3 linked regions of the Homo sapiens genome follow. The protein of the gene in region 2 interacts with the protein of the main gene of each other region in a biochemical or structural test. Each region holds a gene or a part of one and is shown on either strand. Other genes may lie near its edges.

Region 1 (3,227 bases), on a different chromosome or scaffold from region 2:
TATAAGTCCTGTATGACTTAAATAGTGAATTTTGTCCTTAACATTTACCTCTTGTATAGTATCTGCCAGGCAGTTTTTTCTTAAACTACTGAGATGATAACTGTGAAATATTTGTGATACGTGTCATGTGTGAAAAGTTTGATGCATTTTGAGATGGAAAACTGAAATTTGGAAAAAGAAATACTTTACTATTGAGTAAACTACAATATATTTAGTGCTACTCGCAGCTATTTATTATTTTGTAGACCTGCCTTATGCACCTTACTGCCTAGATTTTTGGGAAAAAACTTTGGAAAGTGTGTTACCTATATTTCTAGCCAACTAACTCACAGAAAAACTGTTTACTTCTTCACTTTCGAAGTATTTGGCTTTTGTTAATATGCAGTTTTACTAAACAGATGGTTCATAAGACATGTGAAGCAAATTCATATTTGCAATGGGTAAAAAGTATTAAAGCCTTTCTCTTGCCTGCATATCCTATTGACCATTGGTATAGTCATCACTTTTTCATATTTTAGTGTAGTTAGAAGAATTCCTTCTTCAAACATTAAAGATCCACAAAGCAGTATTTCTAAATATGCCTTGAAGAACTAAATGAAGTGTATAGCACTTGCCTTTACTAGATATTCTTTACACTTGTACAATTATGTAGTAAATGTATGTTTACAGGGTTTATCATGTTTACAGATTAAGCTAATTTCTGTAGTCGCATTTTTATATTTTTAGTATCACTCTAGTAAAAAAACCAAATAATTTGTTTAAAATAACCAAAGAGTTGTTATAATGCATAATTTGTATTAAATTTATTACTATTTCTTATGCCTTTTAAAATACTGTTTACTATGAAGACAATGTTTTTAATTACAAATCCAGAATTCTGTAGGCAAAATGCTACAGTTCATATCTTCCTTTAACCAAACTGAAGTACATAAAGACCATGTACATGTATTCATCAAACGTTTATTGAATGCTGCGTGCCTAGCGCTGTGCTATGCTCTGGGGTAAGAGTTGTCAGCTTCAGAGAAGCTGAGTCCTGATCCTCAAGGAACTTGCAAATGTGTCTATGAATTTGTAAAACAATCAAAAGTAGGCGTAAGCAGAATAAGGCAAAAGGGAAAGTGTTCTAGGTTCCAGCACACCTGCAAAGATAAAGTGTGCCAAGACTGTATTTATATTTCATACTTATATTGTTTCATCCTTATATTGGAATGATTATATAGAAAATGCTCTTAAAAAGATTAAACCTATTTCTCAGTATGGTATCTTGGTGATTTAGGAATAATTGTAAATATATGTTACGAATCTTCTTAAATATATATATATACACACCCTGTGAGAACTGTAAAAAGTACCTCTGGTTCTTGGTTTAAGTTTGTTGGGGTATAACATGATGAGTACTCATTAGCACCTGATAGAAATCTGAAATGTGACAGTAGCAAAACCACTTTCTACTTTCCAAACACCACAGCATCAGCATGGTTTAGGGGAAGCAATTCACAGATTAATGTACCCTGCGTTTTGTCTTCACCATTGTCAACCAGCAGTCAAGGATGAGCACCAGGTATAGTCCTGGTTTGATATCTCACCAGCCATGTGAACTGAAGCAGCTTACTTAACCTCTCTGGATTCATATTTCTTCATCTGTCAAATGAGAGTAATCATGCCCACCCTCATTGTCATGCCAGATTGTCAGAAGTTCCAGACAGATGAGAAAGCAAAAAGTACTTTGTAAAGTGTTATACAATCAGAAGGTGCTTTGTGCTGACCGTCAGATTGTGTCAAGTCAGGTGTGCAAATTGACCACACTCCCAAAGAATCATTTAAAAGTAAAGTGACTTCTAAGAGACAAGGAAGTAGGAACATTTCTGATATTAAATATATAAATAATATGGATACACATGTGTATATCTGTATATGGATCTTACCATCATAATTCATTTTCTTCATATCAGCAAAGTAATAGTAATGTGGGCCAATGCATTTTGGAAATGTCCTCATTATGTAGAATGGAATGTGAAAATTATTTTTGTTAAAACAGGATTTTGCCACAATTATTTAAATATTATGTTTGTGAACTATCTAAGCATGAGAAAATACAAAGCTTTCTTTGTATCTGGCTGATACTCATTTGGATGATTCTGTGACTCATAGAACATGATGTTAAATGAGACCAGACTCAACTGCCACCAGTCCCCAGCTGCAGACCTTCATCCCCTTCATCTCCCACTAGGGGCTCGTGGTCTGGAAGAAACATCTATCAAGCAACACAGCCCCTTATCCCAGATAGAAAAGTGTCTCAAATGCATTCTACTGCGGGACAGTCAGTAGGATCATTTTCATAAAGCAAGGACATCATATGTTTCTAGAAATTACAAGCATATAACTTTAGCCTACAATCTCTTATTAAAAATTTTTAACAAAATTGTATTACAAATGCATTTCATCAGAACTCAAATTTAAATGGTGTTTGTTTTGGGTTTTTATTTATAATGCTGAAGTTATTCCATATAAGTATCAAGTTAAACACAATTCATTTTGATTATAAACTATTTGACTTTTTAAAATCTTCTGACACAGTAAATATATATATCAAGATTGATGTATCAAAATTTATTGCACACTTTAAAGTGTAAAATCATTTTTTAAAATCTTGAATCCACAAATAAAGTTCTATTCTGATTTTAAAAAACAAAACAAAACTGTGGTTCATTATAAAATAGGAGTGTTTCCAAGTCAGTATGCTGGGTGATGTCTTCTGGTCTAGTTCCTCACAGCAGCACGTTAAATTTTCAGTGCAATCCTAAACTTATTACCTGATGAACTAACATGATTATAAACTCTCAACCACAGATAATTAATTTCCACTTTACAAAAAGGTCGTATTGCATAAGTCTGGTTGTTAGTGAAATAGCCAGAAGATAAAAATAATAGCTAAAAATGGACTGGATTTCAGGCACCTTGCTGCTCATCAAAGAAGCCATTCTTGTAGCCAACCACTATTTACAACATCATTTCTATGAGAAAAAGAGTTCGGAGTGTTAATTCAGAACGAAGTGTCTTTTCCTCCTTCCTCTCAGGCATGAGAATTAGTTTCCCAGTTAGAAGGGAATCCACTCCCACCCACTCAAGCCAGCCTGGGAAGGTGCTGTTCCAGCCCCCTGTTTCTGCCATAATCCAGGCCATAGCTTTTAATTTTGGGGACCTAGGCCATGGCCCTCTGCTTCCAC
Region 2 (7,361 bases):
TGGGGGTTCTGTAAAATTTCCCAAACCCCGCTTATAAAGCCCCCAAATGATCAACATGGTAGCAGAGCTACAGGGCTCTGAAGAGGCCATCATCCCTCAAGCAAGTTAGATAATCTGGCTTAACTCTTCTATTTTCTTTATTTTTTTTTTTTTTTTTTGAGACGGAGTCTCACTCTGTCACCCAGGCTGGCGTGCAGTGGCGTGATCTCGGCTCACTGCAAGCTCCGCCTCCTGGGTTCATGCCATTCTCCTGCCTCAGTCTCCCAAGTAGCTGGGACTACAGGCGCCCGCCACCACGACTGGCTAATTTTTTGTATTTTTAGTAGAGACGGGGTTTCACCGTGTTAGCCAGGATGGTCTCGATCTCCTGACTTCGTGATCCACCTGCCTCGGCCTCCCAAAGTGCAGGGATTACAGGCGTGAGCCACTGCGCCCGGCCAACTCTTCTATTTTCTTTTAAGTCCTTGTGATAGATGTTCTGTTTTTGCTGGTTTGTTTTTCAAGCCTAAAATATAAACATGTCTAAGAGATGACTGTACAGATCACAATAGGACGTCCTTCGGGGTTCTTTTAAACCTGGGTTCTTAAGCGGGGTTTGCAGGAAAGTCCATGAAGCCCTTGAGATGATCACGTATGTCATATGTGCATTTTTCTGGGAGGAGAGTCCACAGCTTTCATCATTGTCAAAGGAGTTCACGACTTGAAGAGTAACGTTCACTATTTTAATTATAATTTTTTATTTTTTTGAGACGGAGTTTCACTCTTGTTGCCCAGGCTGCAGTGCAACATAGCGTGATCTCAGCTCACTGCAACCTCCACCTCCTGCGTTCAAGCGATTCTCCTGTCTCAGCCTTCCAAGTAGCTGGGATTACAGGCATGCGCCACCACGCCTGGCTAATTTTTTGTGTTTAGTAGAGACGAGGTTTTACCATGTTGGTCAGGCGGGTTTCAAACTCCTGACCTCAAGTGATCCACCCACCTCAGCCTCCCAAAGTGCTGGGATTACAGGCGTGAGCCACCATGCCCAGCCTAATTATCAAATTTTGGACACTGGACTTAACACTTCAATTGTTATAGATACAACTTTTTCAGACAGCAGGCTGAAGCACTTTCTAAAACAGCAGGCTGAAGGCACACCTTACTTAGCAGGACTGAGCCCTAAGCCAGGTAGAAGGCCGAGCAGGATAGATACATTCTTGTCTCAGAAAGTTCCACAGAGACAGAAAGAAAAACAGTCCCCAGAGATGTTGCCAAATGGCACGAAAAGCTGGCCAGGCCTGGGAACTGACTCACACACAGAGATGCAACAAAACAGTGTGAGGTGTCTCTGATTACATGATAAAAAGGTTCACACGGTTCTGTTTGTCTTCTGCCTCCCCCCATATATCACAACTTTCTCTGACTGGGGAAGGGTAAGTGGGAAACAACTGGTATAAGCAAAGGAAAATGGCTGGGCGCGGTGGCTCACTCCTGTAATCCCAATACTTTGGGAGGCCGAGGAGGGTGGATCACGAGGTCAGGAGTTCGAGACCAGCCTGCCCAACATGGTGAAACCCTATGTCTACTAAAAATACAAAAAATTAGCTGGGTGTAGTGGCGGGTGCCTGTAATGCCAACTACTGGGGAGGCTGAGGCAGGATAATCGCTTGAACCCAGGAGGCGGAGGTTGCAGTGAGCTGAGATCGTGCCACTGCACTCCAGCCTGGGCGACAGAGCAAGCCTCCATCTAAAAAAAAAAAAAAAAAAAAAAAAAAAAGAGAAGAGAAGTACTGCTCAGAGAAAAGAAGGAATTACCAGCAACAGGCTGGGCCCATGAAACTCTGAGCGGGTAAGATAGAGGGAAAGTGAGCATGCTGGGTCACTCTAGGCATTTTCCTCTGACTCATCAAACATTCCCAAGTCACAGGGCAGCTGGATGCTGGCCTTAGCTGGGTACAGGGCTCTGACTCCACGATGTCTCCTTTGGGGACTCAGGTGCCTCCTAAGCTCCTTCTGCCTTCAAGAGGCAATTCAGGGTCGGCATAGTTCAACCCAGGGCTGGCTGGTCTGATTTTCAATACCCAAGGAACAAAAGGAGACAGAGGCCATTTAAGGCTTCTCTTGGCAGAGACTGGAGGAGAGACAGGATGCAATGAGCAAGGGGTGGGGAGGATGGAGTGGAAAGAACCTTGAATTAGGAGAGCTCTGCCTTCCGAGGTGACCCAAACCAACAGGCATTCAAGAGAGAGGCAAGGGAATGACTACGGACCCACACAGTGCCAGGAACTGTTAGACACCTGACAAACGTCATCTGTTTAATTTCACCTCTGGGACCTCAGTTTTTTACCGGGAACCTGAACAGTTCTGGAACATACTGGAAGCCTGTATGCTGGTGGTTAATCCTATTAACTTTGGAGTCAAGACTCCTTTCCTGGAATTACCACCTCTGTTACTTACACAGTTGCGATCTCGGGCAAGTTACTTAACCTTTCTGCCCTCCACTTTCCCTACCTGTGAAATGTGGACAGTAGTAGATTATACTGCACAGAATTTATTAAATAAGGTAGAAAAGGCGCAGAGCCTGACACGTAGTAACGTTGTAGACATCCAATAAGTGACAATTATTTTTGTTTGGGGCTCCTCCCAGCTACTGAAATCACAAGTCTGGGAAGGGGTTCAAGAATCACCCCTAGGCCCCACCGGGGGCCCCATACCAGGTCCCCATGCAGACGTCCCACCCCCGCCTCCCAGCTGATCACAACCTCCCGGGCTCTCCCCCACGGCCCACCCACCTTCCTCCAACCCCGCCCCCAGCCGTTCCCCACCAACCTCACTCCATCAGTGCTCCCTCTTCAGGGGCTTATTCCCCACCACCCACCACCCACCGCCCACTTCCTCGACACCCGAACTTTGGTCCTCCAGGATCCTTCCGCAGTGTTTTCACCTCTCGGTGTTATTGACGATCACTCCGCCGCCCTCCGAGTGATTCTTGTTGAGCGCCATAGTCTCTCCAACAGGGGTCCCGAGACTCAAAACGCAATGAGCTTGCGCCCCTCTTCGCCCCGCCCCTAGTGGCGTCTTCTTATTAGAGTCAGCCAATCAAAGCTCGAGTGCGGAGGCTGGCCCAAACACCTGACCCGAACGTCACGTGGTAATAGTTTACTCCCTCCTTCCAGTTCCTCCTGCGCAACAAACAAGATGAAGACTACAATTCCCAGCAGGCAACGCCCCCGCAGCCTCGGCCTGTCCCTATGCTGGAGGAAGGATGCATTCTGGAACTTGTAGTCTCCTGGATCATAGGCCTGAATTGGTTCCACATTTTGCGTAACCAATCGGCTTGTGCCATCCCCACCCCGCCTCTTCAGCCGGACGGAAATAAACAGTTCCGCTCCTGGCAGGGGCGCGATCTTGGGGACTCCGGCAGCGCGTTAAGGGAAGTCCTGCTGGTCGAATGCGACCTGGACATGGCGTGGGAGCGCCGAGCTGTCCCCTTGTGGATGGGGAGCTTTCGTTCACTCAGCAGACGTTTATGGGGCGCATGCGTGACTCTGGGGCGTTTAGCTGAGCCGGAGGCCCCGGCTCTTGGGGACGCGGTGGGCTGGCGGCGTCGGATCACCCCGCCATCCATCTCACCACTCCCAGCGCTGAGCCCGGGGGGCGGGGAGAGTCCCTCATGGGAAGGGGAGGCCGTGTGCCCCGCCTGGCTCCCACCACGTTCGCAGGCCGGCCGGGCGCCCCTCGCAGCCCCCTCTCCGGCCTCGCGGTGGCGCCGCTCCCCCCTTAGCGCCCAGCGGGGTCCCGGCCGGAAGACTGAAGGCTGAGTGGGACTGGGCACGGCGCGAAACCGGCATCCTGATAACTAGGATTTACAGAATAAGGCTGACTCCTGTCAGCTCGTGACCCAGCCCTGGGCGTCCTCCACGGGGCAGCTGTCATTCCCTAACCGCCCCCCACCAAACCCCTGCACCTCCGAGCTGAATCCGTGAGGCGGAGAGAGGGGGCTGCACTTCCCACGTGGTAGTTCCGGTACTCGTTAATGTTAAGGAATTAGAGTTTGCTTTTCAGTAGACAGCTGCTTTCCTGACTGTGGTGGCCAACCTCTAGATCCACCTGCTTGACTTCGCTTTCCAGGGAGGTCTCCTATGTGAAGAAACAAAGCTGCCTCACTAGAAAAGATCAGGAAACAGCAGCGTTCTGTGAGGTCCTGTGCAATACCAGGTTGGACCTTGCGGGACAAGTACAGTGGGTTAAGGATAGTCATAATGAAATCTGCCCCAATGGTTAGATGTATTTTGGCGCCTGCAATCTCTGCAGTCTTTAAAAAGAATTAAGTCAGACTATGTGCTGATATGGGAAGATCATCAAGGGTTATTAAGCACAGAATGCTGTATACATATAGTTGTATTTGTATAAAAAATAGGATCTAGATAGAAAATTTTTGCAAAGATCCATCAGAAAATGTCTGTGGCATTTTTGAGACATGGGTCTAGGAATTTGGGGTGGATTGGTGACTCGGTATGTCAGTATGCATTGTACTCTTTGGTACTGTTTAATTTTTTTTTCCTATGTGCGTTTAAAATATAAATTTAGGCCGGGCGCGTGGCTCACGCCTGTAATCCCAGCACTCTGGGAGGCCGAGGCGGGCGGATCACGAGGTCAGGAGATCGAGACCATCCTGGCTAACAGAGTGAAACCCCTTATTAAAAATACAAAAAAAAAAAAAAAATTAGCCGGACGTGGTGGCGGGCGGCTGTAGTCCCAGCTACTTGGGAGGCTGAGGCAGGAGAATGGCGTGAACCCGGGAGGCAGAGCTTGCAGTGATCTGAGATTGCGCCACTGCACTCCAGCCTGGGTGACAGAGTGAGACTCCATCTCAAAATAAAATAAAATAAAAATAAATAAATAATATGTAAATTTAAAAAAGAAAAGCAGGCCGGGGTTTGTGGCTCACGCCAAAGGCGTGAGCCAAATTCCAGCACTTTGGGAGGCCAAGGCAGGTGGATCACCTGAGGTCAGGAGTTCAAGACCAGCCTGGCCAACATGGTGAAACTCCATCTCTACTAAAAATACAAAAATTAGCCGGGCATGGTGGCGGGCACCTGTAATCCCAGCTACTCGGGAGGCTGAGGCAGGAGAATCGCTTGAACCTGGGAGGCAGATGTTACAGTGAGCCAAGATCATGCCACTGCATTCCAGCCTAGGCGACAGAGCAAGACTCCATCTCAGAAAAAAGAAAAAGAAAAGCAAAATCCAGGCCTGGTGCCGTGCCTGTAATCCCAGCACTTTGGGAGGCCAAGGTGGGTGGATCACTTGAGGCCAGGAGTTTGAGACCAGCCTGGACTACATGGCAAAATCCCATCTCTATAAAAATACAAAAATTAGGCCGGGCGCGGTGGCTCACACCTGTAATCCCAGCACTTTGGGAGGCCAAGGTCGGCGGATTACCTGAGGTCAGGAGTTCAAGACCAGCTGGCTAACATGGAGAAACCCCGTTTCTACTAAAAAATACCAAAAACTAGCCGGGTGTGGTGTTGTGCGCCTGTAAGCGCCTGTAATCCGCGCGCCTGTAATCCCAACTACTCGGGAGGCTGCGGCAGGAGAATCCCTTGAACCTGGGAGGTGGAGGTTGCAGTGAGCCGAGATCACGCCATTGCACTCCAGCTTGGGCAACAAGAGCAAAACTCCATCCCAAAAAAAAAAAAAAAAACGCAAAAATACAAAAATTAGTTGTGCATGGTGGCGTGGTTCCTGTAATCCCAGCTAATAGGGAGGCTGAGACATGAGAATTGTTTGAACCTGAGAGGCGAAGGTTTCAGTGAGCCAAGATCGTCCCAGTGCACTCCAGCCTGGGCAACAAAGGAAGATTCTGTCTCAAAGAAAAGAAAAAGAAAAAAAGGAAAATCCCCCCAGCAAAGAGCAGGCAGCATTGGCTGCTCTAAGGACCATAAATGGGAAGATGGGGACAACCTGCCCACCCCTCTCCCACCCCTTTGCCAAATACGTTGGAGACAGGAGCAAGTTCAGGTTTTGCCAGGCCTTGAAGCTTATACAATTTTGGAGGCTGTCTTGGTTGTTTATGTTTTTGTTTTTTGAGACAGGGTCTCATTCTGTCACCCAGGTGCGATCATAGCTCACTGCTTCCTTGGAACTCCTGGACTCAAGTGATCTGGAGGCTCTTTTTAAGAAATAAAATACACAGGCCGGGCGCAGTGGCTCATGCCTGTAATCCCAGCACTTTGGGAGGCTGAGGAAGGTGGATCACCTGAGGTCAGGAATTTGAGACCAGCCTGGCCAACGTGGTGAAACCCCGTCTTTACTAAAAATACAAAAAATTAGCTGGGTGTGGTAGCGGTCACCTGTAATCCCAGCTACTCGGGAGGCTGAGGCAGGAGAATCGCTTGAACCCTGGAGACGGAGGTTGCAGTGAGCTGAGATCAAGCCACTGCACTCCAGCCTGGGCAACGAGAGGAAAGCTCTAACTCAAAAAAAAAAAACAACCCCACAATTATTCATTCACAATACTGTGGCTACAGTGAGGCCTCCTGACAGGAGGGGAAATGACAAGAAGAGGAAGTTGCAGTGCAGAGATAACAAGCTTGACCAGCTCCGGCTACAATGTCCAGAATTTCTAAGTTTTACAAAAACATATGACCATGTGAACACACTTCCTGGGCGGCTCCCATGACTTTGGGGCTGGAACGTACCAGAACTCAAAACTCAAACCGAAGACTTCAACAATGGTTTATTGCTGAACCAGGTGAGCAGCAGGAGGCTCCCCTGGGCCCAGGTCTCAGTACTCAGACCTCTCCTCTGGCCTCATACTCCTGTCTGCCTGTCTCCAGATCTCTTTTTCACTGCAGTATGATGCTCATATTCTCCACACTGGAGCACATCTTAGCGGTGCGCTAAGGAGGAGTGCAGGTTGGCCTCAGATACCAGCAGGCAAGGTCTGGGGCAGCTGAGCCCCTGAACTGGTCACCTGTTTTTTCTGTTTATAATTTTATTTATTATTTATGTATTTATTTTTGATACAGGGTCTTGCCCGTCTCCTGGGGTGGAGTGCATTGACATGATCTCTGCTCACTGCAGCCTCCGCCTCCCGGGTTCAAGCAATTCTCATGCCTCAGCCTCCAGAGTAGCTGGGACTACAGAATCGTGCCACCACGCCCAGCTAATCTTTGTATTTTTAGTAGAGATGGGGTTTCACCATGTTGGCCAAGCTGGTCTCAAATTCCTGACCTCAAGTCATCCGCCCACCTAACACTCCCGAAAGTGTTAGGATTACAGGTATGAGCCACCGCCCCCGCCTGGTCGCCTCTTGACTCCCAATAAGATGAATCTGTTTGCCCCAGTGAGCCAAATAAATACCATTTTCACTGAAC
Region 3 (6,992 bases), on a different chromosome or scaffold from region 2:
CAAGATAGGTACTGTTTTACAGACAAGGGATAGCTAACTAAAGCCACTAGGTGTAGCTGACATGGTCAGTAAGTGGTGAAAATAACGTAACACCCAGACAAACTGATTCAGAGCCACTTTTTTCTCTCTTCTCTTCTTTTTTCTTTCCTTTCCTTTTCTCTCTCTCTCTTTCTTTCTTTCTTTCTTTTTTTTTTTTTTGAGACACGGTCTCTCTCTGTTGCCCAGGCTGGTGTGCAGTGGCATGATCATAGTTCACTGCAACCTTGAACTCCCAGGCTCAAGTGAGCCTCCTACCTCAGCCTCTCGAGTAGCTGGCACCACAGGCCCACACCACCATGCCCAGCTAGTTTTTTCATTTTTACTTTTGTAGAGATGAGAGTCTCATCATGTTGCCCAGGCTGGTCTGAAACTCCCAGGTTCAAGCAGTCCTTTAGCCTTGGCCTCCCAAAGTGCTGGGATTACAGGTGTGAGACACGGTGCTGTCCCTGAGCCACCTAATTATCCATTCTGTTATACTGACTGCTGCTTATGTGCCTTCACTTCATTTTGAGCAACGTGGGGCCAGAGTCTGTCTAATTTGTCTTAATAGTCTCACCCCACCTCCCTAAGCAACACACATAATTTGGTAGCAAATAATTCCTTGCTGAATTGAACAGAAGGTGTATTTAGTGACTTCTACGTTTCCTTGCAAATCTGAAATTTTATGATTATAAGATCCGGTGAATTTTGCTGAATGTCGACTTGGGTCTTCATGCAAACTTTCTTCATGAAGTCTTCACGCCAGCTGGATTCCTCAATTGTCATTTATCTGTCCTACCCCAAAAATCCTTCAGTGCTACTGAATATTGCCTTTCAGCAATTACCCAAATTCAGTCTTTCTCTTTTTTTGGGGTGGCGGGAAGGGGACTGAGTTTTGCTCTCGTCGCCCAGGCTGGAGCACAGTGGTGCGATCTCAGCTCACTGCCACCTCTGCCTCCCAGGTTCAACAATTCTCCTGCCTCAGCCTCCTGTGTAGCTGAGATTATGGGTGCCCGCCACCACGCCTGGCTAATTTTTGTATTTTTAGTACAGATGGGGTTTCACCATATTGGCCAGATGGTCTCGAACTCCTGATGTACGGTGATCCACCTGCCTTGGCCTCCCAAAGTGCTAGAATTACAGGCGTGAGCCATTGCACCTGGCTCAACCTTTCTCACCACTCAGTCTCTTCATTATCTAGAACGTGCCTGTGCTACCTGCCGTAACAGAGTATGGCTGGAGGCTATTTCTCATTTTCTAGTTTATCATATCAATTTTTTTTTTTTGAGACAGAGTCTCACCCTGTCATCCAGGCTGGAGTCCAGTGTGCAATCTTGGCTCACTGCAACCTCCGCCTCCCAGGTTCAAGCGATTCTCAAGCCTCAGGCTCCTGATTAGCTGGGACTACGGGTGTGTGCCACCATGCCCAGCTAATATTTGTATTTTTTGTAGAGATGGGTTTTCACCATGTTGCCCAGTCTGATCTCGAGCCCCTGACAGTCTGATCTGCCCGCCTTGGCCTCCCAAAGTACTGGGATTACAGGTGCCAGCCACCGCACCCTGTCAGATTTTATTCTTTTAATGTGCAGTGTGTGCTCTTTGCTTGTCCCTTCTCCCCTTTGGTGAACACTTACTCAGATGCCACTAAATCTTTTCTGCAGGGTTGTTAAAAAAAAGCAACAAAAGATAAAAAATGAAATATGAAAGAAGAAAACAAACCGAAACCAACAAATGCTAGTAAGTCAAGGAAATAGTCTCTAATTTATCTAGAACAGAATTAGTAAAACTGCCATCAATGGAACTGGAGAAGTTTTAGTTATAGTAGTTTTATAAATGAGACTAATATAGGGTTTAATGTACAAAGACAGGACTGTATCTCCTTGAAAGTTAATCTCTTGGATTTGGAGTGGTACTACAAAAAGTAGAGACTAAGTGTTCAACCTATTTATTTATTTAGATACAGAGTCTCACTCTGTCGCCCAGGCTGGAGTGCAGAGGCGTTATCATGGCTCACTGCCACCTCCGCCTCCCGGGTTCAAGCAATTCTCCTGCCTCAGGTTCTGGAGTACCTGGGATTACCCGCACCCGGACCATGCCCGGCGAATCTTTTTTTTTTTTTTTTTTGTAGTTTTAGTAGAGATGGGGTTTCACCAGGTTGGCCAAGTGGGTTTCGAACTCCCGACCTCAGGTAATCCACCTGCCTCTGCCTCCCAAAGTGCTGGGATTACAGGCGTGAGCCTCCACGCCCCACCAGCCAATTTAATTTGTATGCATGATAGAATCCATCCCAATTCGAAGACCCAAAAATAACAGATTAGTACAAGTCTTTGAGGCTAATTACGTCATTAGTATTAATTTTAATCAATGGTGATTAAACTGAGCCTTCATTCAACTTGTCCAGAACATCAGTCAAGAATGTCTATTTAAAATGTTCTTGGAGGCCGGGCGCATTGGCTCACGCCTATAATCTGAGCACTTTGGGAGGCCAAGGCAGGTGGATCATCTGAGGTTAGGAGTTTGAGACCAGCCTGGCCAACATGGTGAAACCCCATCTCTATTAAAAATACAAAAATTAGCCAGGCATGGTGGTGGGTGCCTGTAGTCCCAGCTACTCAGGAGGCTGAGGAAGGAGAATTGCTTGAACCTGGGAGGCAGAGGTTGCAGTGAGCCAAGATTGAGCCACTGCACTCCTGCCTGGGCTACAAGAGTGAAACTCTGTCTCAAGCAAGCAAATAAATAAATAAATAAATAAATAAATAAAGTTATTGGGCAGGCACAGTGGCATTCGCCTGTAGTCTCAGCTACTTGGGAGGCTGAAGCAAGAGGACTGCTTGAAGCTGGGAGTTCGAGCCCAGCCAAAGCAACCTATCCAGACCCATCTCTTAAAAAAAATATTTCTCTGCCAGGTGCGGTGGTTCATGCCTGTAATCCCAGCACTTTGGGAGGCCAAGGTGGGCGGATCATTTGAAGTCAGGTGTTCGAGACCAGACTGGTCAACATGGAGGAACCCTGTCTCTACTAAAAATGCAAAAATTAGCCAGGCGTGGTGGTGCACGCCTGTAATCCCAGCTACTCGGGAGGCTGAGGCAGGAGAATTGCATGAACCGGCGAGACGGAGGTTGCAGTCAGCTGAGACTGCACCACTGCACTCCAGCCTGGGCGACAGAGCGAGGCTCCATCTCAAAAAAAAAAAAAAAAATATCATCTATCTATCCACCTACCTACCTACCTACCTACCTGGATTATAATTCATTAAGTTCTCTGTGCCCTGTAGTTGTAGATTAAGGGAATGCGATTGGATTAGTGTGGAGGGGCTTTTTATGGAGCCAAGCAGGAGTTTTTAAGCTTTTGTACTTTTGCTTCATGTCACAAGGACAGATGCCCCACAAAGGCTGAGATGTTTGTGGTCCTGGATCTTAGAACAGTGCCTGGCACATAATAGGCATAAGGTTGCCAGGAAATAGAAATACAGATACTCAATTCAATTTGATCTTCAGATAATCAAAAAATACTTTTTTTAGTATAAATATGTCCCATTCTGTATTTGGGACATACATATTACACTGTTGTTTATCTGAAATTCAAATTTAAGTGGGTGTCCTGTACTTTATCTGGCAACCCTACTAAAGGAGCTCAATTAAGTATTTGCTGACTTAACAGTCTGAAGGTCTCGTTTCACCTGTAAAATGGGGCTAGTACCTGTCCCTGCCTCTATAAGGTTGATGGGCAGAGTAGGTGGCATTCAGTGAGCCCTCAATTTATTTGATTGCCTGGGACCATCCGGTGAGCAGAAACCCTTCCACTTTCAACTACAGAGACGATAAAAAGGCCTCCTCGAGGCCAGAGGTGCCCAGGCCAGGCCTAGGTGGCCCGCACCTGCGAGCCTGGCCAGCCTCTTCCGGGTCAGGTGACCGCGCGCGGTCACGTGACCCGGCCCGAGTGCGGGCGGTGGAAGGCGGAAGTAGGAGAGGAGTTCGGCGCCGCTTCTGTGGCCACGGCAGGTAGCGAGCGCTGGCGCGGGGGGCGCGGTGGGCTGGCTGCCTGCACGGGGCGGGCCGGGGGCGGCGGGCGGCGCGGGGTGGGCCGGGGGCGGCGCGGCCCGGGCGTCGGGGGGCGGCGGCTTCCTGTGGGAGGGGCCTGGCGCGGCGGTTCCGGCCTCCGAGGAGGGGTGTCCCGGCTCCCGCCCGAGTGGGGTGGGCGCGCCGCGGCCCGCGCGGGGGTTGCTCCGAAATGGGTGCCCCGGCCGCCAAGGGTGCAGCTGGAGCGAGTCCTCCCGGAAGGGGAGAGGAGCTTAGGTTCCCAGGCATGGAGAGGAGCGATCTTTGTGGAGGGATCGGGACCAGGGGAAGGGGCGACTTGGAACTGAGCTGGAAGGGGGTGCCTGAAAATGGGTTTATGGCGTGGAGCCAGAGGGAAAAAGATGCTGCCTGGACCCCCTCTGAGAGTCTCTCCCTTCCTTCCTGTTTGGAAATGATTGTTACCCGAGACTTTGATGACGGTCCCATTCAGTTTTTAAACTTCAGGAGGGATCACAGAATCTTGATCGTCTTGCTTCCCTCGCGCCCACTTAGTCCTGCGTGGGTAGGGTTTCCACTTCTTGGGAGCCTAGCCCTTCAGCTCATTTTTCTTTGAGATTTTCCCTGAACGGGCCATCATCGAGGCTTTAAAAAACAAAAAAAGAAAATAAATTAAAAAAATAAGTGTGGGCACTTTGCCTGTAAAATGGCTTTTAGCTTACACTGTTGACCTAGCCCAGCGTTACCTCAGCAACATAGTGACTGCTGAAATCTTGGACAGAGAAGTGTCTACCTAGACTGCTTTATGACTTTTCTCTTTCTTCCGTTTAAATTATTCAGTTTCCCTTAGCTTATCTTGTGACTGCTTATCTTGACGAACTGTAACTAGGTAGGGTGCCTGAGAGGTCTGTGTTATGTTCCTTAGAACTGTGACCTGGATCATGATTTTGAGATTGAATACTTGTGTTAAAGCCTGTTCATCTTCCTGTTTCTCATGTTTACTAAAATTTGCAGAAGCAAAAGGAGTTTCATGAGTGCAGTGTAACTGGAACGAATGTTCAAACTGGACATTCACAGCAGCCAGCATCGTTTTGGGTTACAAGTAGGAAAAAGTACTTTCCTAATGTATTATGAGTTCAAGTTTTTGGAGTTATTTGACAAACATTTAAAAATTAGTTTTTGCAGCAGCGCCTATGAGTGAGGTTGGGAAGATGTATTCTCATTTCACAGGGAACAAACAGACTTACGAGAGACGACTTGATTTTTTAAAACAATTTATTGCTCTTTCTTGTTTGCTGGCCTCTTCCTGCTAGATTGCAAATCCTTCAAGGGCAGGTTTCATATTTTATTTGGCTGCTAGCCTAGTGCCTGGCATGTTGTGAGCACTTGATAAATATTTGGTGAATAAATGCATTTCTAAAAGTCACACCGGCGTAAGTGGTGACAAAGGATTTGAACCCAAGTCTTCTACTCTTTTTCTTGTCAGAGAAGCTTGTGATTATCTGTGTCATTGGTCCATATGAAAACAGGCTCGAGAGAAAGGCTTGGATTGGCTTCTCAGTCTCTTTCACTTCATGATTACTTTCCCATTTACAAAGAGCGTATACCAACATCTCACTTAACCTTCCCTTTGAAATTGGGATGGTCAGTATTGTCCCTATATCACATGAAGAGACTGAGGCTTAATGAAGTCCTTACTTTAGATTTCAGAGCTAGTAAATGAGTAGGGACTCAAGCCCAGACCCTTAATCCTTAGATCCATTCTTTTTCATTTATTGACACAATAGAAAATTTTATTTTTATTTTATTTTGAGACAGGATCTTACTCTGTTGCCCAGGCTGGAGTGCAGTGGCACAATCACGGCTCACTGTAACCTTGACCTGCCTGGGCTCGGGTGATCCTCCCATGTCTGCCTCCCAAACAGCTGGGACTACAGGTGGGTGCCACCTCGCCTGGCTAATTTTTGTAGAGACAGGGGTTTTGCTATGTTGCCCGGGCTGTTTTCAAACTCCGGGGCTCAAGCGATCCTCCCACCTCGGCCTCTCAAAGTGTTGCAATTACAGGTGTAAGTCACCATGCCCAACTGAAAGTTTTATTTTTACATAATTTTTCAGGAATAAAAAGTGTAACATTTTAAGGAAAAAGATCACACAGAAAAAGTTGTGAATGTAGAATGTGAGTAAATGAAGTTTAGAAAACGCTGTACTCTACCATAGCTTCCTCTTCCTGGGAAAACATTCTTTCATTCAGTGAATATTTATAAGTACCCACTCTGTCTTTGCCAGGCATTGTTGTAGAGTCCAGTATGGTGTACACTAGCCACATGGGGCTGCTGAGCACTGGAGCTATGCTGTGAGCATAAAATACATTCTGGATTTTGAAGACTTAGCATGAAGAAAAGTAAAATGTCTCATTGATACTTTTTATGTTATAGTAAACGATCATATAATGTATAAACATGTATGATAACATTTTGGATTTATTGGGTTAAATACAACGTAATTATAAATAGTTGGTCAGACATGGTGGCTCATGCCTATAATTCCAGCACTTTGGGAGGTCAAGGTGGATAGATTGCTTGAGCCCAGGAATTTGGGACCAGCCTGGGCAACATGGTGAAACCCTGTCTCTACAAAAAATACAAAAATTAGCCAGGTGCAGTGGCGCCCGCCTGGCTACTCAGGAGGCTGAGGTGGGAGGATCACCCAAGCCTGGGGAGGTGGAGGCTGCAGTGAGTTGTGATCGTGCCACTCATTGCACTCTAGCCTAGGTGACAGAGTGAGACCCTGTCTCAAAAAAAAGAAAAAGAAAAAGAAAAAAAGTTTCACCTTTTTGTCTTTTTTTTTCCCACTTAACCTTGACTTGAAACCCAGCACTTTTTTCTTTTTAAAATGTATTTCCTAGAAAAATAAAAAATTATAAATGTGGCTTGCACTTGTGGCTCCCATCTTATTTCT

What was found. Proteins that work in one complex are often made in the same cells at the same time.
Region 1: of the proteins of WBP2 (region 2) and NEDD4, one has a biochemical effect on the other in vitro, tested with the Homo sapiens proteins (6 studies listed by BioGRID, with this or other methods).
Region 3: the proteins of WBP2 (region 2) and WWP2 form a complex in vitro, tested with the Homo sapiens proteins (4 studies listed by BioGRID, with this or other methods).

The regions. Positions count from the first base shown.
Region 1 is NC_000015.10:55,826,389-55,829,615, reverse strand, and holds the end of NEDD4 (E3 ubiquitin-protein ligase NEDD4), read left to right. Parts: 3' UTR 1-2,694; downstream 2,695-3,227. UniProt on the Homo sapiens protein: E3 ubiquitin-protein ligase which accepts ubiquitin from an E2 ubiquitin-conjugating enzyme in the form of a thioester and then directly transfers the ubiquitin to targeted substrates. Specifically ubiquitinates 'Lys-63' in target proteins.
Region 2 is NC_000017.11:75,852,316-75,859,676, forward strand, and holds the start of WBP2 (WW domain-binding protein 2), read right to left. Parts: upstream 3,021-7,361; 5' UTR 2,983-3,020; coding exon 2,924-2,982; intron 2,830-2,923; exon of another isoform or gene 2,809-2,829; intron 1-2,808. UniProt on the Homo sapiens protein: Acts as a transcriptional coactivator of estrogen and progesterone receptors (ESR1 and PGR) upon hormone activation. In presence of estrogen, binds to ESR1-responsive promoters. Synergizes with YAP1 to enhance PGR activity.
Region 3 is NC_000016.10:69,758,373-69,765,364, forward strand, and holds the start of WWP2 (NEDD4-like E3 ubiquitin-protein ligase WWP2), read left to right. Parts: upstream 1-3,959; 5' UTR 3,960-4,019; intron 4,020-6,992. UniProt on the Homo sapiens protein: E3 ubiquitin-protein ligase which accepts ubiquitin from an E2 ubiquitin-conjugating enzyme in the form of a thioester and then directly transfers the ubiquitin to targeted substrates.